3 linked regions of the Homo sapiens genome follow. The protein of the gene in region 2 interacts with the protein of the main gene of each other region in a pairwise test. Each region holds a gene or a part of one and is shown on either strand. Other genes may lie near its edges.

Region 1 (7,138 bases), on a different chromosome or scaffold from region 2:
GAATTCTATACCTCAGGATTTCAAAAAGTTAGCAACTTGAGAGGCCAGTGCTGAGCAACCCAGTACCCAGGAAATGAAAAAAAGAAAGAAAATTCCCTCCGAGAATGAACAAATCATTGGCTTCATTGCCTCATGAGCTTGAGAGAAAGGAGAAGAGAGCCAGAGTGTGGCAAGTGAGGCCAAAATCAGAAGCATGGCAGAAATGAGTGTAAGTGATTGAGCCACAGACAGAAGTGTGGCGAGGGACAATGCCATATTGGGAGAAGGTAAAGTTGAGTAACAAGAAACCAACCGTGTGTGAGAGGGGGATTGGAAAAAAATTTGAGGGAGAAGAATGTTAGAATGGAAGGGAATGATGGTGGAAGGGAGGTGTGAGGGTGTGTGCTGAGTGTTGAAAGAACGGTTGGTGTCTGTGTGATTTTCCTTGAGTCTGTTCTTCAGTGTGTCTTCTGCAGCTTGCCATGACTGCCTGGGAAAGAGTAGGGAAATACCCAGAGCCAAAACCTCCTTTCAGTCCCACCCCATCCCTCAAAACCCCAGCTATTGCTTCTTTTCAGCTTCAGGTCCTGATCTCCAATCTTAGTATGGACTCCCTTCTCACCAAGACCACCACCAGCTACGTTTGCTGTGTAATCTGGAAAGTGATAATTTCCTTTGCTTGTTGGGTGTGAGTCACAATACTTTGGTTTGTGCACAAGAATAAATTTATGCCCCATACCTTCTGTTGCTGTTATCTTCTAGTTTTATTCCTAAATCCTGATCTCTCCTTAATCTTCTTTAACCCATTCCCCTGATCTGATTTCTGATCTGTCTCTTTTCCTGCCCTCCCATTTTTCATCCTTTTGCCCTTTGTTCCCAGGTCTTTTGCTCTTTTATACAAATTCTGTCCTGCTTTGATTTAGCCACCTCCATCACTCTTCTTGGTTCCCTCTCCCCACAGTCTTCATCCAAGTTCTCCCCTTTCCCTCCCTTGCCTCATACTTTCTAGGTAAGGCTTCAGTTCACAGAACTCAGAGAAGTTGGAAAGGCCCTCTGAGCCCTTTGCTATCAACATTTCCTCGCTCCTTAGAGGAAGCAACCATATTAAACAGTCTCTGGGAAGTAAATGAAGAGAAAGCAATGGCTGGAGGGCTGGAGGGGAAGGTGGGATGGGAGAGGGAAGAATAAAGCTGAATTGAGACTACTAAAGAAGGGAGGGCGTTGGAGGTAGGTGAGAATTAGACTTCAGAGAAGGAAAGTGCCATTGCTCTGATTCTGCCAGCAGAGGGCACATTTGTGCCAATAATCAGACCCAGGCCGCAGACTCTTCCAAGTGCACTGTCTTAGAATTCCAAAAAAAGATCTCAGAGACCATAGGTTAAATAGCCTGTCTTCACCCACTCAGTCGTTTTGGGTACTCAGTTGAAGGAGATCAAACTTTCAGTTTGTTTTTGTTTTTGAGGGTGAGGGTGGTAGTGATGATGAAGTCACCTTTAGCTATTTATAGTTCTTCTTTTTTTTTGAGATGGAGTCTCCCTCTGTGGCTCAGGCTGGAGTGCAGTGGTGCGATCTCAGCTCACTGCAACCTCTGCCTCCTGGGTTCAAGTGATTCTCCTGCCTCAGCCTCCCAAGTAGCTGGGATTACAGGCACGCACCGCCATGCCTGACTAGTTTTTGTATTTTTAGTAGAGACTGGGTTTCACCATGTTGGCCAGGCTGGTCTTGAACTCCTGACCTCAAGTGATCCACCCACCTCGGCCTCCCAAAGTGCTGTGATTACAGGCATGAGCCACCACGCCCGGCCTATTTTATCTTCTAATTGCTTCCTTGGGTTGGGAGGGGATGGAGGAGGACAAAAGATGAGGGGTCTGGAGGCATAACTAGCCTGGGCAGAAGCCAACTGTGAGGGGATACCTTTTAGGGTCTCCACAGGATGGAAAAAGGACATGGTCAGGAAGAGTAAAGAGCTCAGAAGGGGACAAAGGAAGTTACAAAAGCCACTTCCTGGTGCGTGCCTGTAGTCCCAGCTACTCAGAGGCTGAGGTAGGAGGATCACTTGTGCCCAGGTGTTCAAGTCCAGCCTGGGCAACATAGTGAGACCCCCATCTCTAAAATAAAGAAAGAAATAATTTTTTAAAAAGCCAGCTAGGCACAGTGGCTCACGCCTATAATCCTAGCACTTTGGGAGGCTAAGACAGGAGGATTGCTTGAGCCCAGGTGTTTGAGACCAGCCTGGGAAACATAGTGAAACCCTGTCTCTACAAAACATATGAAAATTAGCTGGGCGTGGTGGCATGTACCAGCAGCCCTAGCTACCTGGGAGGCTGAGGTCGAAGGATTACCTGAGCCTGGGGAGGCTGAGGTTGCAGTGAGCCAAAATTGTGCCACTGCACTTCAGCACAGGCAACAGAGTGAGACCCTGTCTCAAATAAATAAATAAATAAATAAAGCCACTTCCTCAGGTAGCAGCAACAGGGTTGTGGTGGCTGCAGCAGAAGTGCTGCAGCAACTGGTTCCAGAATCTAAGCAGAAGGTGGAGGAAGATCATGCAGCTACTGAAGAAGGGCCTGGGGAAATGATAGGCTTTCCCCAAAGGGGCTTTCAAGCCTGTGGCCCTGCCCAGAGACTCCGCTGGAACAGTACAAATGGCACAGTCCAGATCCTATGTGGTATGTGCTCCCTTTGCAGGAAATCTCAAGTAGAAACCTCAGAGAGCCTGTAATCCCAGCACTTCGGGAGGCTGAGATGGATGGATCACGAGGTCAGGAGATCGAGACTATCCTGGCTAACACGGTGAAACCCCATCTCTACTAAAAATACAAAAAAAAATTTAGCCGGGCGTGTTGGTGGGCGCCTGTAGTCCCAGCTACTCGGGAGGCTGAGGCAGGAGAATGGCGTGAACCTGGGAGGTGGAGCTTGCAGTGAGCCGAGATTGCGCCACTGCACTCCAGCCTGGGCAACAGAGCGAGACTCCGTCTCAAAAAAAAAAAAAAAAAAGAAGAAGAAAAGAAACCTCAGAGAGCCTATATGTGCTTCTCAGGGAGACATCGATGTCTATCCCGCACAGCAGGTTGAACTGAGCATCTCAACAGCAAATGGAGGTTAAAAGGCAGATCCTGGCTGGGCGTGGTGGCTAGAGAATAACTCCTTAGAGACCAGATCCTGGCGGTGGCTCACGCCTGTAATTCCAACATTTTGCGAGGCCAATGTGGGTGGATCACCTGAGGTCAGGAGTTTGAGACCAGCCTGGCCAACGTGGTGAAACCCCGTCTCTACTAAAAATACAACAATTAGCCGGGCATGGTGGTGGACACCTGTAATCCCAGCTACTCAGTAGGCTGAGGCAGGAGAATTGCTTGAACCCAGGAGGTGGAGGTTGCAGTGAGCCGAGATCGCACCACTGCACTCCAGCCTGGGCAAAAAGAGCGAAACTCCATCTCAAAAAAAAAAAAAAAAAAATGCAGATCCAAGTGTTTGTCTTTTATTAAAACTGCCAGAGCTCAAGAGGAAAGAATAGGGAGTGAGGCAGACAGAATAATTGTCAAGTCTTCCCCACATCATTCCTTTGTAGGAGGTACTGGGTTTAGTTAATTTGGTCCCTTAACCTGCCAAGATCTAGCCCTTACCGAGAAAAGACCAACCTATCCAGGAACTTTAAAAGAGCAGTTCCACTGTGAAGACTTCCCTTTTTGTCCCCAAATATAGCACTTTAAGCCCTCCCTGCTCCAAATACACCCACAGGTCTCTCCACTCTGCCCTGGATTGGCTCTGTGTGGCCCTCAGGGCATGTTCCCCAGACTCTCTCTCTCTGACTGAATTCCTATCCAATACTTGCTGTCTACTTCCTGTCTCCCTCTCAGTCTTCAGTTTCTCCCTAAGTGCTTCTTTGGATCTCAGGCTCTAGGTGCAATGTGAAGGGGAGTCCCTGGGCAGACTGATCCCTGGCTCAGACAGTTCAGTGGGAGAATCCCAAAGGCCTTTTCCCTCCTTCCTGAGCCTCCGGGCAAGGAGGGAGGGATCTTGGTTCCAGGGTCTCAGTACCCCCTGTGCCATTTGAGCTGCTTGCGCTCATCATCTCTATTAATAACCAACTTCCCTCCCCCACTGCCAGTGCTGCCCCCACGCCTGCCCAGCTCGTGTTCTCCGGTCACAGCAGCTCAGTCCTCCAAAGCTGCTGGACCCCAGGGAGAGCTGACCACTGCCCGAGCAGCCGGTAAGTCTCCAGCTCTATCGTTAGAAAGGCTGGAGCCCACTGTGTTGACTTCTGTGTCTGTGTCTACAATTGTGATTCTTGATCCTGGGGGAGTCTCCCCTCTCCTCATCTATGCTCAGCTCCCAGCTGTCCAGTTGGAAGGAGAGGGGAAGGAGAGTTGGAAGGAGAGGGGCCCAGGAGGTTGGGGGGAATGGAGATGTCGGGGGAGGCACTGGAAGAATGGGAAGGGAGACCCCACTAAGTCAGTAGAGTTGCAGATGTATTTTTTGAGACAGGACTTAGAAGAGGACAGCATTTCACTGAGTGCCAACTTCTCTTAAGAAGGGATTGGAGTCCATCTTATCCCAGTTTGTCCCTTTCCATTGCCAGATCCTATTACTATGTTTCTGCCCCACCTCAATTCCCCACTGCTATGATATTGCTGAATTGACGTGTCGGGATTTGAATGCTCCCTACCCTTCCCAGTTCCACACCTGCCTCCACTCTGGGGTCTGTGGCGGGAGTGATTGCAGGAGCAGGGCCATGACTTCCCAGGCCATGTTCCAGCTGGCCTGATGAAGGAGCAACAACCTCTCCTTCCTATGGAGAGTGTTTTTGGCTGAATCTCCTCAACCCTGGCAGAATATTTCTCTGTCCTCCTGGGGACTGGGGGAAGACTGAGGAGAGACCAGAGCCTGGAATCACAGCCCCAGTCTGATATCCCAGTGCAAATAAAAACTTCAAATCATGCCAAGCCAATGAAACCTGGGTGCATTGCCCTGCTTGTGTTATTGTTTTTTAAACACTCCCCACACCTAGCTATGTTCCTAATTCCTGCACTGACTCTATGAAAAACAGCTCACAACAGGTTGGTAGACAACAGGGGCTGGTGTGCATCTATACTTCCTGTCCTGTATCCCAAGAAAAGAGAAGCCCTAAAGCGCAAGTTTTCACCTTTTGGGGAAATACATGCTTCTTTGAAAATCTGGGTCAGGTGAAGTGGCTCACCCCTGTAATCTCAGCACTTTGGGAGGCAGGAGGACTGCTTGAGCCCAGGAGTTTGAGACCAGCCTGGGCAACATGGCAAAACCACATTTCTACAAAAAATACAAAAATTAGCCAGGCACGGTGGTGCGCACCTATAGTCCCAGCTACTTGGGAGGCTGAAGTTGGAGGATCACCTGAGCCCAGGGAGGTTGAGGCTGCAGTGAGGCATGATTGTGCCATTGCACTCCAGCCTGGGCGACAGAGTGAGATCCTGTCTCTAAAAAAGAAAAAAAAATTTTTTTGTCCCCTCAAGCCCTTAAACCCAGGTTAAGAAGTGCTGCTCTCCTACAGACACTCACTCTTCCCAGTCCCTGTCCATCCACCAACTCCTCCTTCCCACCCTGTCCAGGCTGAATCCACCTCCACAATGCCGCTCTCAGGAACCCCGGCCCCTAATAAGAAGAGGAAATCCAGCAAGCTGATCATGGAACTCACTGGAGGTAGGACATGTTTGCATCTCCCTAGTGTGGGACTTCTTAAGAGCATCCCTAAACCAAGAGTCCCAGAAATATATATCTTAGGGTGAACAAACAAGAGAAATTAAGTGGTGGGAAGGCGGGTGATGGGGAGTGGGAGAGGGAAGATTAAGAAGGGTAAGGAGAAAGAGAGAAAAGATTCAACACCTTCTACCCTTTTCACTTCATAATCTGAGACAATACCCTGCCATGTTACCTGCACAGGTCCAGGACCACAGGACCCATGAGTCAGTGAGGTATATTTGAGGAAGAAAATATAATGGAGACTGGCACAGACTCAGGTCTCAATAAGTGGTTAATTTCCCTTACTTCTTTCCCCAGAGCTAGGGAGCTTGTGTAAGTACTTAAAATGGAAAACTGCACAGGCATGTTTCCTGGGGGTGGGCAGGGGTGCATGCATGTGAAGAGCTCTTCAATACCTAGAGACTCTTTGGAGCCAGAGCTCACTGAGGGAAAGAAAAGGGAAAGTAGTTAAGACAGAAGTCTGGGCCAGGTGCAGTGGCTCACGCCTGTAATCCCAGAACTTTGGGAGGCCAAGGCTGGTGGATCGCTTGAACTCAGGGGTTTGAGACTGGCCTAGGCACATGGTAAAACCTCGTCTCTACAAAAAGTACAAAAATTAGCCAGGTGTAGTGGCATGTGCCTAGAGTCCCAGCTACTCCAGAGGCTGAGGTGGGACGATCGCTTGAACCCGGGAGGTGGAGGCTGCCGTGAGCCATGATTGCGACGCTACCCTCCAGCCTGGGTGACAGAGTTCATCCTAAGATATATTTATTTTGTCTCAAAATAAATAATACAAATAGGGCTGGGGCTGTGTCTCATACCTGTAATCGCAGCACTTTGGGAGGCTGAGGTGAGAGGACCACTTGAGCCCAGGAGTTCAAGACCAGCCTGGACAACATAATGAGACCTCATTTCCATTAAAAAAAAAAAAAAAAAAAAAGTCCAGGCGTGGTGGCTCATGCCTGTAATCCCAGCACTTTGGGAGGCTGAGGTGGGCCAATCATCTGAGGTCAGAAGTTCAAGACCAGCCCGGCCAACATGGTGAAACCCTGTCTCTACAAAAATAGAAAAATTAACTGGGCATGGTGCCGGGTGCCTGTAATCCCGGCTACTTGGGAGACTGAGGGAGGAGAATCACTTGAACCCAGGAGATGGAGGTTGCAGTGAGCTGCAATCGCGCCATTGCACTTCAGCCTGGGAGACAGAGCAAGTCTCTGACTCAATAAATAAATAAATAAATAAATAAATAAATAAATAAATAAATAAAATGTAGGCTGGGCGCCACGGCTCACGCCTGTCATCCCAGCATTTTGGGAGGCCGTGGCTGGTAGGTCAGTTGAGCTCAGGAGTTTGCGACCAGCCTGGCCAACATGGTGAAACCCCATCCCTACCAAAAAATATAAAAATCAGCCAGGGATGGTGGTGCAGGCCTGCAATCCCA
Region 2 (5,354 bases):
TGTCAGGCAGTGGGTTCATGCGGGTTTATTATATTAGGATCCTCAGTAATTGATCATCAGTCAATCAATAAAAACCAAGCCTTTGTGGACCAGTGATGGGAGTGTGTGCCGCAGAACTAATCCAGTTCTGTAAACTTGAGATCCTCCGCGACCTGGGAAACAGGACGTCCACCAACCACATCAGAAAACCCAATTGTCAATGCTCTGAGGCTTTGGCCATCAGTGCAGGGCTTGTTGGCCTGGAGCAGGAGTGGACAGCCAGTGGGGAAGCGAGACCACTCTACCACAGGCGGGTAAGTCACTTCTGTGGCCACTGCACCTGGGCCCCAGGAGCCCTGGGAGAGACCACATGGGCATCTGCAGCTGCGCCCTCCACCCGGGACACCACCTTCTGATGAGCACTGGGTGAAGGGATCACTGAAGAGGGTTTAGCAGCAAATTCTATGTAATCAGCAGAATAGATAGCAGGGAGTATGGAAATAAAAAAGAAAGACCAGAAATGCAGAGCTGCATGGGGAAAGCTGGTTTATTTGGCTCTCATGGGGTCAGAGAATGACTCTGGGACCCCAGACTTCCCTGGGGGGATGGGCAAGGTCAGCAAGGGCTCCAGATCATTCTGTCACATTCTCAATCCAGAATTCAGAGGGTTCAACTGAGCATGCTTTTCACCTGCACCATGTGCAGAAGACCAACTGAGGACTCATCCAGGGAGTGTACAGGTGTGGCCTCATCTGCACTGGGAGCAGCGGGTCTGGAGATTCATGCTCAGCAGCAGGAAGAGATACTGTAGGAGATGGGTCTGCAGAGGACGCTGGTGCAGGAGGGCTGGCAGCACCCAGAGGACTGGCAGGACGGAGCCGCATACACGACAGGCCTGCAGCTCACAGGCACGCACAGGGAGGACTGGCAGGAGGGGGCTGCACACACAATGGGCCTGCAGCTCACAGGCACACACACAGAAGACTGGCAGCTCACGGGCACGCACACAGCTGACTTGAAGCTCATGGGCACACACACAGAAGACTGGCAGCTCACGGGCAGGCACACGGCTGGCTTGAAGCTCACGGGCACACACACGGAGGACTGGCAGCCCACAGGCACACAGCAGGATGCCTGGCAGGAGCTGGGCACACAACAGGCTGGCTGGCAGGGGCTGGGCGCGCAGCAGGCTGGCTGGCAGCCCGAGGAGCAGCTGGTATGACACATGGTGGCGTGTGGCTGGATAAGGTCGAGGCAGAGGGCAGTGATGTCTGGGGACGGCCTCCCTGGGCAGCCTTTATACCTGGGCCCAGGCATCCCCACAGCACAGAAGCACACCTGTCTTCCTTGTTTTTCTTCCTCAGTGCTGTCTCCTGGAGCTTAATTTTCTGTTGTAGGTGTCTCTGGGTTTTGTTTGGCCCTTAGCTTCATGACTAATTGCACCTTCTTCGAACTCTTGGTATGCTTGGAAACCTGCCAGAGTGTTTTACTGGCTTCATCAAGATTCTTCCTTGTTCTTTAAAATTTTACCTGAGTTACTTTTGTGAGATTCCAAAAACTCAGATCTCCAGATTTTTTTCCTCTCTGTGTGATGATGGTCCTTAAACCACAGAAGTTTACACTCCTCTCATGGCTCAGGAAGGCTCCACAGTCAATGTGAGGTAGAACAGGACGTGTCTAGCTGATCTGTGGGTGTCCTGAGAGCTTAGAGCTGGATGAGAGCTAGCAGATGGAGGAAGAACATGGAAATCACTTGTCCATAGGATGAGTGGGGACAAAGGGTGTGGGTCACAGAGAACTTCTTGTGAGTGGTGACCATGGATCTTTGTCTTGAGAAATCCTCCTAGTTAAGAACCAAGATGAGACAACACCACTGGCCCTCATGCATGGAGACACAGCTCTAAGGAAATCAAGCTGGTCCAAGCATGTTCCCAGGGAAGCATGTGAGGCCAGTGAAGGGTCCCATGGACAGCCACAGCAGGATATGTGTGAGCTGAATATAGAAGGTTCCAAGGGCCAGAATGACTTCTGGGTATGTTCAGCAGAAAGCCATGTGCACCCTGTACTGCAGGGACAGTAGAATCTCTGAGCCTACAGATGTCAACACCAGATCACTTGGAACTTGGCATCATGATAACAGAATGAAGGAAAAAACCACGTGATCATCTCAATTGATATAGAAAAGGCATTTCACAAAATTCAAGATTCTTTCATGATGACAACAATCAACAAACTAAGAATAGAAGAAAACTACCTCAACACAATACAAGCCATACATGAAAGACCCACAGCAAGCCTCATACCCACTGGTGAAAAACTGAAGGCTTTTTCTCTAATATTGGGAACAAAGCCAGCATAGTACTAGAAGTTTTACTAAGAGCAACTAGGCAATTGTTTTTAAAAGGAAGAAAGAAAGAAACAAAAAGCATCCAAATTGAAAAGCAAGAAGTAAAGTTAGCTGTGTTCACAGATGACATGATTTTTATATGTAGAAAACTCTAAATATTCCACACACAAAAATTTTAGAATAAATGAATTCAGCAAAGTAGCAGGATACAAAAGCAAAACACAAAAATCAGTTCTATTTCCATAAACTAACAAGCATAATCTCAAAAGGAAAGTACAATAACAATTCCATTTACAATACATTAAAAAGAACAAAATACTCAGGAGTTAACCAAAGAATTAAAATAATTGTGTAACAAAAACTACAAAACGTTGAAAGAAATTAAAGGCAACAGAAATAAATGGAAACACATCCCATGTTCATGAATTGGAAATTAATATTGTTAATATGTCCATACTAACCAAAGCAATCTACAGATTCAATGCAATCCCTGTCAAAATCCCAAGGACATTTCTTGCAGAAATAGAAAAACCCATCCTAAAGTTTATGTGGAGTCTCAAGGGACCCTAAATAGCCAAATCAATCTTAAGAAAAGAATAGAGCTGGAGGAGTCACACTTTCTGATTTCAAAACTTACTACAAAGCTACACTAATCAAAACTGTGGTACTGGCATAAAGACCAATATATAGACTAATGGAATAGCATAGAGAGCCCAGAAATAAACTCTCACAACTACAGTCAAATAATTTTCGGCAAGGCTGTCAAGACCTTTCAGTGAGGGAAGAACAGACTTTTTAACAAATGGCAGTGGGAAAACAGGATATCCACACACAAAAGATTATTTTTAACCCTTACCTCACACCATATACAAAATTAACTCAAGATCAAAGATAGAGAATCTCAGTAGGGAAATTGAAACTATTTTTTAAATGGGAATGCTAGAACTAAAATGTACAATAGCTGATATTTTAAAATCCACATGATAGACGTAAATATAGAATGAGATTGAAGAAGAGTTCATGAACTTGAAGCACATCAATAGAAATTATCCAAAATGAAGGAGAGGAAGAAAAAGAATTAAGAAAAATGAAAAGAGCCTGTGAGACATCATTAAACAGCATCACATATATGTAATATCAAACTCAGGTGGCTCACGCCTGTAATCCCAGCACTTTGGGAGGGCAAGGCGGCTGGATCATGAGGTCAAGAGATCGAGACCATCCTGGCTAACATGGTGCAACCCCGCCTCTACTAAAAATACAAAAATTAGCTGGGTGTGGTGGCACGTGCCTGTAGTCCCAGCTACTTGGGAGGCTGAGGCAGGAGAATCACTTGAACCCGGGAGGTGGAGTTTGCAGTGAGGTGAGATTGCACCACTGCACTCCAGCCTGTGACAGAGCAGGACTCCATCTCAAAAAAAATTAAATAAAAAAATAAAGCACTGGGCATTCTCCCCTAAAACACAAAGCTACAAACACAGAGCCTCCTCCACCCCTCAGCATCAAGGGGGCAAGGGTGAGGGGTTGGAGGGCTGTACTTTCAGTTAAAGAGAGGCTAGCTGTGTGCCTGCAGTATGGACTAAGGAGCCTGGAGCCTGGACTGAGGCTGCCAGGCTGAAAACCGAGACCATGACATCAGGTTCCAGCACACTCCATTGCTACTGGCAACAGCCATCCCAGTATTCCCACCATTCTCCTCCTCGGCTTACGGATCACCCGCAGGAGGTGGCGTGCCTTGTTGGGATGAACATCCGGATGCCCTTTGCCCCAGCAGTCCCACCCCCAGAGGTCCTACCCCCAGAACACTAACAAACAAATTGTGGAATAGGTTTGCAAATGTTTATATCAGCACCATCTGTAATAGCAGACTCTTGGGAACAACAGGCCTGCCCATCTACTGGGGGGCATTTAACCTGAAGTAGAAACAGCAGAACCCCAGGAAGGAGGCACGCTGAATACAGAATACACCCACAAGAAATGCAGAGGACCCTTAGCAACTCTGTACAGAGTGGGAGACATAAGTCTCAGAAGATTACTCAGAATAATTCCCTTTTAATATCATTCAAAACCACTAAATTAGAAAACACACATTTCAGGAATACAAAGAGATATGACTCAACTCTATTTTTTCTAGAAAGTAACAGAATAAAGGGCACATAATCCCAACAGTGGCTGCCCCAAGAAGTTCATGGTAAATTATTGATGATGTTCTAGTTTCTGTGTCAGGTAGTGGGTTCATGGTTCATAGGTGGGGGGGTTGTTATAATCATTAATAATTGATCAATCAGTAAAAAGTGGGCAGGCTCAAGAGGGCTGACTAGAGGCACCTGACACTTGCCTCTTCCACAAAGAACCCAAAAGAGTGAGAGGTAACAACATTTTGAATGGGACATCTGAGAGAGACACTGGAATTCAGCAAAGAAGCAACTGGAATTCAGCAAAGAAGCGACAGGAAATATCTGAGGCACAGAAGGCAAGGGAAGGGAGGCAGCTGGCCCAGCTAGAATCAGTCGGGAGCCCACAGAGACTCCCCAGTCCAGGGAAATGGTAAATGAGAGATTCCCAGCTGTCTACATTTCCACCATGGATTCAGCATGGACCTGAAACCCTAGCCATGGGAGAGCCTCTTATTCTTCACATGCCCTGAGACTTACATAGGGATTTGCCAGGATGCCACATAATGGCATTGCTCCAGAGAAAGAGCCCACACTGGGTCTCACACACCCACCAGGTCCTGAGCAGCTGTAGCATGGTGCCATTTTGAGAGCCCAGCCCCTAAAAGTCTGCATCCTGCCCTGGGGCCCAACAGATCTTGTATCTCCACATCCCTTCAGCTCTGCCGAATCCCACAACCCCCACCAACCCAAGAGGGCTGCAGGAGTGCAATACCAGCTGGATGCATCAATAAGGCAGGGGTTCATGAACTTGCATGTACCCTGAGTACAGGCTTTCCCCACCCACCATCATAAATTACCCCACACTATTCACCATAGCCTGTGTCCATGCACACTGTGTGGCCTGGCACTGC
Region 3 (7,964 bases), on a different chromosome or scaffold from region 2:
GGCTCAAGCCATCCTTCTGCCTTGGACTCCCAAAGTGTTGGGATTACAGGTGTGGGCCACTGTGTCCTTCCTTAACATAATAAAATTGAGATAATCACATTCATAAAAGGGCAAAACTATGTCAACAAGCCCACTGTATTAGTCTGTCTTCACAGTGCTGTAAAGAACTGCCCAAGACTGGGTAATTTATAAAGGAAACAGGTTAACTGACTCACAGTTTAGCATGGCTGGGAAGGCCTCAGGAAATTTAACAATCATGGCAGAAGGCAAAGGGGAAGCAAGGTACCTTCTTCATAAGGCAGCATGAAGGAAAATTAATGCAGGAGGAACTACCAAACACATAAAACCATCAGATCTCGTGAACTCGCTCATTATCAGGAGAACAGCATGGGAGAAACCGCCCCCATGATTCAATTACCTCCACCTGGTCTCTCCCTTGACACATGGGGATTACAATTCAAAATAAGATATTGGGTGGGGACACAGGCAAACTATATCGCCCATATTACAATTACTTACATTACTGATTCCCTTAATTAGAGCAGAGGTAATTAATTGGGTCTAGGCTCAGTGGAAGGGTCTGGCTGGTTCTTAATTCTCAGAGCTAGTTTGAATCTTGAGGTTAACGTCTTGCCTTCTAGAACTTGTCCTGTGTTTGGCTGAACTCTGTGAACCTTTCAGAAAGTAGGTCTTTATTGAGCACATACTCTATGCAAGGCAAAGAACCAACTACTGTGGAGTTTACAAACATGAATAAGGGGTAAGAAATGACTCTTGTCACATGGTTTACAGTCCAGCTGTGTGGGCCACCACAGTTCATATCTTTCAGGCTGGGGACTGGATGAGAGGAAAGTGGACTCAAAATTAATCCCAGTGCTCTCTACTTTCCCATATCCCTGTGCTTTATCTCTGTTGTAGTTATGTTATTTGTATGTTGGCCTGCCTCACTGCTCTGTGATCTCCAAAGAACAGGGACTAGGTTTTATTTATTTCTGCATTGCCGCAGAGCCTAGTATGTGCTTTATAGAGAACAGGCTCTCAAAAAAATTTTAAATTAAAAGAATGTATTCACTTGTTTATGTTTCCTAGTTACAGTGGGCCAGCTTGTTCTGTGCTAATATGGAAGTGACAAGAAACTGGTGTCCCTCTACGCAGAGGTCCCCACACTAAATATCATCTTGGATGTGCTTCACATTGTTGCACAAAGGTACAGTGGAGTGAGACTGAGTAAGAGGACAGAAATAGTGGGGGGTTTGTCTCAGCTCACTAATTACTTATTTAACCTTGGGCAAGATACTTAAAGCTCTATCTCAGTTTCTTCATCTGCAAAATGGGGATAATAATGACTGGGGTGCCTATTTCCCACGATTGTTTTGAGGATCAAATGAGATAATATAATTAAAAGTGTTTTTGGAAGGTCTAAATCACTGTGCAACTGCAAGGCATTATTAAAAGAAATCTTCCTTTTAATTCCTGCTTCCACAAACATCTCATCACATATCCTTGGGTTCCTGGGTTACATGGAGAGATTCGTGGTGTAGCTCAATCTATGTGTCATAGCTATCCCACAATCTCTTCTTCAACTTCTCCAACACACCAAGACATTCTTCCAGTCTTGCACTGCTCCCCAGTTTATATAGATATATATGTTCCTCATTCAGCATTTATGTAAAACATATATTATTGAGCACTTATGTGATAGAAACCGGGGCAAAACAGAAAATAAAACAGAGTTTTATTTTGAGAGTTTTTTACAGCTTGTCGGCTCTGAGAGGACAGACATGAGAACAAATAAGTGCCCAATTCTGCATTTATTTTGGAAGGCAGTTTTATGTGAGTTTAAATCAGTAAAGACATAGATGTATATTTTTAGTTTTGATTAAAACTAAAACAATTGGTAGCCCTTACTCATATTTTTCTATCATTAAAACTTATCTTTAAAAAATGTCTTCAGTCATATTTTTCCCTTACTTCCATTCATATTTACTCTTTACTTCTCTTGTCCTTACCAGAATGTATGCAGTAAGTTTTCATATTGTAACACATTCAACAAAAGTTATATGTGAACATAATAGCTGCTTTCTTTAAAACGGTTACTTTGAGAAACTGCATACCTATTTTTTTTTTTTTTTTTTTGAGACGGAGTTTCACTCTTGTTGTCCAGGCTGGAGTACAGTGGCACGATCTTGGCTCACTGCAATCTCTGCCTCCTGGGTTCAAGTGATTCTACTGCCTCAGTCTCCTGAGTAGCTGGGATTACAGGTGCTCGCCACCATGCCCGGCTAATTTTTGGTATTTTTAGTAGAGACGGGTTTTCAACATGTTGGCCAGGCTGGTCTCGAACTCCTGACCTCAGGTGATCTGCCCACCTCAGCTTCCCAAAGTGCTGGGATTATGACATAAGCCGCCACGCCTGGCCTGCACATTTATTTTAATAATGTTGTCATAGCTACAGTCGCTTCTAGAGTTGCTCTTTGGGGATAACTATCTTATATTCTTCTGAATATATTTTAATAGTGACAAAACTTATCTTTGCAGGTGATTTTTAAAATTTGTATGCAGCCAAGTCACTATGAATTATCTTTAGTGAGTAAAGAGGAAGATCGAACTGGTAACACTGTGGGTAAACAACTGAAAAATAATGTTATCTTTCTCTGAACATACTTGCACAAGACAAATTCCAAAAATATTTTGACTACGTTATTTTTGAAAAGGGTTTCCAGTATTTCAATGTGACTACTTTCACTAATGATACTTGCTTACCTAAAGTGCTTGTTAACATGCAGTTTTGGAACTTCATAGGTCTATGCCCATACTGACTTGTACTTGCTTAGTGTTGTTTTACATTCTAGTTCAACATCTATTATGTGATAGACACTGGGGATTAATAGGCTGTGGTCTTTGCCCATGAGGACCTCAAAACTTAGTTGAGAACACAGAAATACAAAGAGTCCTGTGTGAAAAATAAGTATCGGTGTTAAGATAAAGAAGCGGCAGTGGAAGACAGTGGAGGGACTGTCTGTTAGAGGGAGGAATTTATTGTGGTGTCGGCAAAGCCTTCTTTGGACTGAAGGATGAATTATGATTAGAAGTTCATTAAGAGGAGGAGGGAAGGGGACTACAGGAGTCATTCCAAGCCAAAGGAACAAAAGATACAGGGACAGAAACAGCAAGATATGTTTGGGGGAATCTCAAGTAATACTGTTATTGTGTGAAGTTCACAACAGGGGCAGGGAGGACAGGAGATGGGGCCCAATGACGAAAAGGCCTTGTATGTACCATGTTTAGAAGTTTGAATTTTATCCTATAGGAGTCAGGGAGAGGTTCTATGGGTAGGATTTCTCATCCCAACAGGATTGTAAACTCCCACATCCAATTAGTCACACCTCCATTTTTTTTTTCTGTTTCTTTAACATTGTCTCAGATTCATTCCTTCTGAAATCTACCTTATTAGTTCAGGTCTTCTTAAATTTGTGCCTGGACTGTTCACCAACTCTTGACTGGTCCTGGGGCTCCAGTTCACCTCTTGCTCCCAACAATCAATTTTCTACAGAATTATCAGAGCAATCTTCCTTTCCATCAATCTCAACTCTGTTCAAAAACTTTCAATAGTTTTATGTGACCTAAGAGGTAGCTGCCTCCCCACCCTTTCAGCTTGCCATTCAAGGCTGCATAATTTGGTCCCAACCCCCTTTCCGTCCTTGACTCCTCTCACTGCTAACAGAGACAGAACTCATTTACTTACTCTTCTGACTGTACCTTTGCTTTCACGAGGGCTCTTTCCCGGAATGATATGTCCATACAACTATTGTTGTTGTTCTTACTTTTAGCTCTTTTCTTAGAAGCCCACTTGTACCCAGGTTTGATCACACCCCCTACTCTCCTGCCCTGGAAGTAACTACTATTCTGGTTATAGTCTCTTAATATCTATATCTATATATATGCATCCACAGATAATGTGTAGTATTGTCTTGAAAAAAATATACATAAATGGTATACTTTGTCTCCCTCTGCGATTATTTTCACTGTCATTTAGTTTTTAAGATTTATCCCTATTGACATAAATAGCTATAGTCTTTTCAATTACTGTGTTGCATTTCATTTTATAAATATACCATACATTATTCATCCATTCCTCTAAGGGTGGGCATTTATGTTGTTTTCAAGGTTTTGCTATTACAGTGTTACAACGAATATCCTTAGCTTAGCTGGTCTCCTTGTCTTATACAAATTTTACTGACCTTTCAAGATCCTGCTTTCATCCCAGCTCCTCTGGGAAAGCCTTCCCTGAATCCCCCAGCCCACAGCGGCAAAGTCTTGGTACTCAAAGTTGCTTGTGCATCTTTGGTATCATCCCACTGCCAAGCACACAGCTACGCAAAGTAAGGCACTTAAGAAATATTCGCTACACGGATGAACAAATGAATGAATGAATGGGGCAGCACCACTCCGTGATGGCTCTATTCCTTTTTAATGGACTTTGGCGCCTTGGCCCACTTTCCTTCTTTGACAGCACTGGTCCTACTCCAGAGCATTCCTCTAGCTAGCAAAGCAGTGTGTGGATGTGTGGGTGTAGGTGGCGATACAGACCTCACTGGATGAGGACCGCCTCTCCCTGCAAGTTCACGATCCCGGCAAACTCCAGTGCTTGAAGTTCAGAGTCCTACCCCACCCCGCTCACCTCCACGCCCCTTCTGCACTGGTCAAGCCAGCGAGCCGCTGCAGCCCTGATCGAGTTAAGGCGCGGCGGCCCCCGGGGCCGCTGGAGAAGGATGCGGACGGGGCCAGTGACTCGTAGTAGATCCCTCCGCGCGGAGCTCGGGCCGGCGCTTCTTCCTGCGGGAAACCCCTGGGTGCCCAAGGCGGCGGGGCCGAGGCCGCGGCGACAGTGGGGCGGGGCTTGCGGTGGGAGGAGGCGGCTGAGGCGGAAGGACACACGAGGCTGCTTCGCTGCACACCCGAGAAAGTTTCAGCCAAACTTCGGGCGGCGGCTGAGGCGGCGGCCGAGGAGCGGCGGACTCGGGGCGCGGGGAGTCGAGGCATTTGCGCTGGGCTTCGGAGCGTAGCGCCAGGGCCTGAGCCTTTGAAGCAGGAGGAGGGGAGGAGAGAGTGGGGCTCCTCTATCGGGACCCCCTCCCCATGTGGATCTGCCCAGGCGGCCGCGGCGGCGGCGGCGGAGGAGGCGACCGAGAAGATACCCGCCCTGCGCCCCGCTCTGCTGTGGGCGCTGCTGGCGCTCTGGCTGTGCTGCGCGACCCCCGCGCATGGTGAGTATCGGGCTGAGGGGCGCTGTCCGCGGCGCCCGGGGCTGCCACCTGGGGCGACCCTTCTCCCCCTCGGTCCTTCTCTGTGTGGGAAGGCCAGGCTCGGCCGCCGGCGCGGAGCGAGGCCACTCGCTGGGTTCCCGAGAGTTTGGACATCGCCGGGGGCCCCTCCCGTGGTGCCCCGCCAACCGCCGGGGTTCCCCGCCAACCGCCGGGGTTCCCCGCCGCCTCTGCTCCCCGCGGCCCGGGACCCCTCACACGCCTCCTCGGCAGGAGGGAGGCCGGCAGCAAGTCTCAGAAACTCCTTTTTCGTAGTGCCAGGGTGCAGGGAGGTGGGCAGTTTTGCCCTTCAGGTTCCGCGTTTCCTGGGGTCGAGCGAGAGCCGACGGCGGGCCTCGGAGGGGCTGAGCGAAGGAATGCCAGATTCTGGCGTGGAGAGCGGGGGCAGGGCCGCCAAGCCAAACGGCCTGCACCTTCGCAGCCAGCCTCGCCTTTGCCAGGGGGCGGCACATGGGCCGGGTGTGTGGGCTTGGTTTGGATGGGGACGGGGTTTTGCGGCGCGCCTGAGTTTTGACACTCCAACCCCACCGAAAGTCCGGAGGAGCCGGGTGTGCTGCTCGCGTCTTTGAAAGGTGGAGGCAGGAGAAGTAGGGCAACTGGTGTGGCTGCATGCTGAGGCACATGATTTAAAAATCTCAACTGCTGTTATTCTTTCTGAGGCGCGGAGCTCTGCTGCTGTTTCAGGCTGTGTCCAGACCCAGGAATGTGGTGTGACGATCACCAATTCCTCCAACCTGGCAGCAGCATTTGCTGCTCCTTTGGCATGGCTGGGGGTGGGGCACGGGCGGGTGAGAAAAAGTGGATACGTCAATTCAAAGGGCTTCCTTAGAAAGCTTCTTTGTGGTTGGATGTTTCTAACACGGTTGGACCAAGGAAAGGGAATCAAATCATATCTTCCCCATCCCACCCACACTTTTAGATTCTACATTTCTTCAGACCCTTTAGTGGAAATAACTTGGGCTTTGGAGCCCTGCTCTGTAATCCTGGATTCAAATCCAGCTCTGCTATATGAACTCACCAATAAAATGGGAATGAAATTATCCAGCTAATAGGATTAATTAAAATAATGTATATTAAACGGATGACACTCCAAAGGTGTTCAGAAAGTCCTTTGAGGGCCGAGGCTGTGTTTTACTGCTTCTGAGATTGATGCTCCCAGTGGGATGGTGTCTTGTGCATATTTGTTGAACGGAAAGCAGCCCCTTCTTTTTCTGAGCCTAATCTGAATAAAGATTTTTACCTTCACCAAAAAACTAGTACATGAACTACATCTGTTTTCAAAGAAAAGGTTAGGAAGATGATGAGCTTCAGAAAAATATGGTCTTTGTTCATTGTTAACAGTCAGTCGACATGTCAATCGCAGATGTTTAAAAAGAGAACAAGGTTATTTATCACCCGAAAATAGTACTGGGTTGTTCAGCACCAACTAGATACTTCTTGGAAAGTTCAAATTTCGTACACGTCTAGGTCACTAAGAATTTCAGAAGTGGACCAGGAGGCTTTGTAGTGATGAAGCAGAGCTGTTGTTTCTGAAGCATTTAATAAAGAGCATATATGATGGTGTTTTTGCTTTTCCTTTTTCTTTGAGTGAAAGCTTTAAGTGTAGCTTTAGGATAGAGAGGAGTATAATCAATGAGACAGTCTGAGGGTAATAATCCTTGGTCTATCATTAACTTGTTTTGGTAAATAACTTAATCTTCATGATATGTAGTCTCCTCACCTATGAAGCAGGACTAAAGGAATAACCTGCTTTAGAGAATTGTAGGGAATAATAAATATGATTGTAAAGTGATTTGAAAAATTAAGTATTAAATAATATGTCAGAAATGGGATTACTCTGACACATAGGGCTTCTTTTATTATAGGATCTCAGTGCGTAAAACTATGCCCTCCACCTCTGCTCTGCTGAGGTGCTGCGATTATTAGCTAGCTTTTAGGTAGTCAAGTTGAGTGTTAGTCAAGTTGACTCAAAGGATAGGATTTAGATATTTTGATTTTTAGACAGGTGTTCTTTAGATGCTAAACTAATGCAGTAGAAGAGATTTAGAAGCCTGTTTCTTGGTACAAATCTTAAATCTTCTTAGAGTCTACAGTGAAGGCTTCTTGAATCCTCCTAATTTATTATTGTGTTTTGCTAAGGTACCAATTACAGCACACCCTTCTAAACTTTTGAGTGTTCCTGTGTTTGGCTTGTGGCCAATTGTTAATTTAAACATCACGGAGTTTCTAAGGCAAGGAGATGTTAGCAGTATGTCTGATTGTCTAAACAGCTATCCAGGACCATACTCTTGCTCCTTGTTTTCTTTTGCTTTGCAATGGGAAGTGACTCCCTGATTTTGCTGCCTGCTAGATAATTTCTCAGCTGAATTCTTCTCTTGCTTAAACAAAATCGGAGTAATTTTCTTTCAGATGGTGATGAAATTTAACCTAAAACTATTTTTCCTTTCACTTTCTTATTATTCCTTTTTTTTTGGTGTGGTGGAGAGGAGGAGGAGAGTGATTCCTAGTCTCTCTTATTTTTCTGAATGTTTAGATTTAAAAAATATTTACCCATAACTTCTTGGGATCTCTCTGCTCCATTCCCACCCTACTGCCTCTCCTGTAGGCTTCTATGACATAGAGAAGCAACTTTTGGTTCAC

The links. The genes of interacting proteins can lie anywhere in the genome.
Region 1: the proteins of KRTAP12-2 (region 2) and MYOZ1 interact in binary tests that used the Homo sapiens proteins (3 or more experiments, as listed by UniProt).
Region 3: the proteins of KRTAP12-2 (region 2) and NOTCH2NLA interact in binary tests that used the Homo sapiens proteins (3 or more experiments, as listed by UniProt).

The regions. Positions count from the first base shown.
Region 1 is NC_000010.11:73,638,465-73,645,602, reverse strand, and holds the start of MYOZ1 (myozenin-1), read left to right. Parts: upstream 1-4,128; 5' UTR 4,129-4,192; intron 4,193-5,567; 5' UTR 5,568-5,585; coding exon 5,586-5,658; intron 5,659-7,138. UniProt on the Homo sapiens protein: Myozenins may serve as intracellular binding proteins involved in linking Z-disk proteins such as alpha-actinin, gamma-filamin, TCAP/telethonin, LDB3/ZASP and localizing calcineurin signaling to the sarcomere.
Region 2 is NC_000021.9:44,665,681-44,671,034, forward strand, and holds KRTAP12-2 (keratin-associated protein 12-2), read right to left. Parts: upstream 1,248-5,354; 5' UTR 1,207-1,247; coding exon 766-1,206; 3' UTR 509-765; downstream 1-508. UniProt on the Homo sapiens protein: In the hair cortex, hair keratin intermediate filaments are embedded in an interfilamentous matrix, consisting of hair keratin-associated proteins (KRTAP), which are essential for the formation of a rigid and resistant hair shaft through their extensive disulfide bond cross-linking with abundant cysteine residues of hair keratins.
Region 3 is NC_000001.11:146,226,012-146,233,975, reverse strand, and holds the start of NOTCH2NLA (notch homolog 2 N-terminal-like protein A), read left to right. Parts: upstream 1-4,954; 5' UTR 4,955-5,264; coding exon of another isoform or gene 5,265-5,267; intron 5,268-7,964.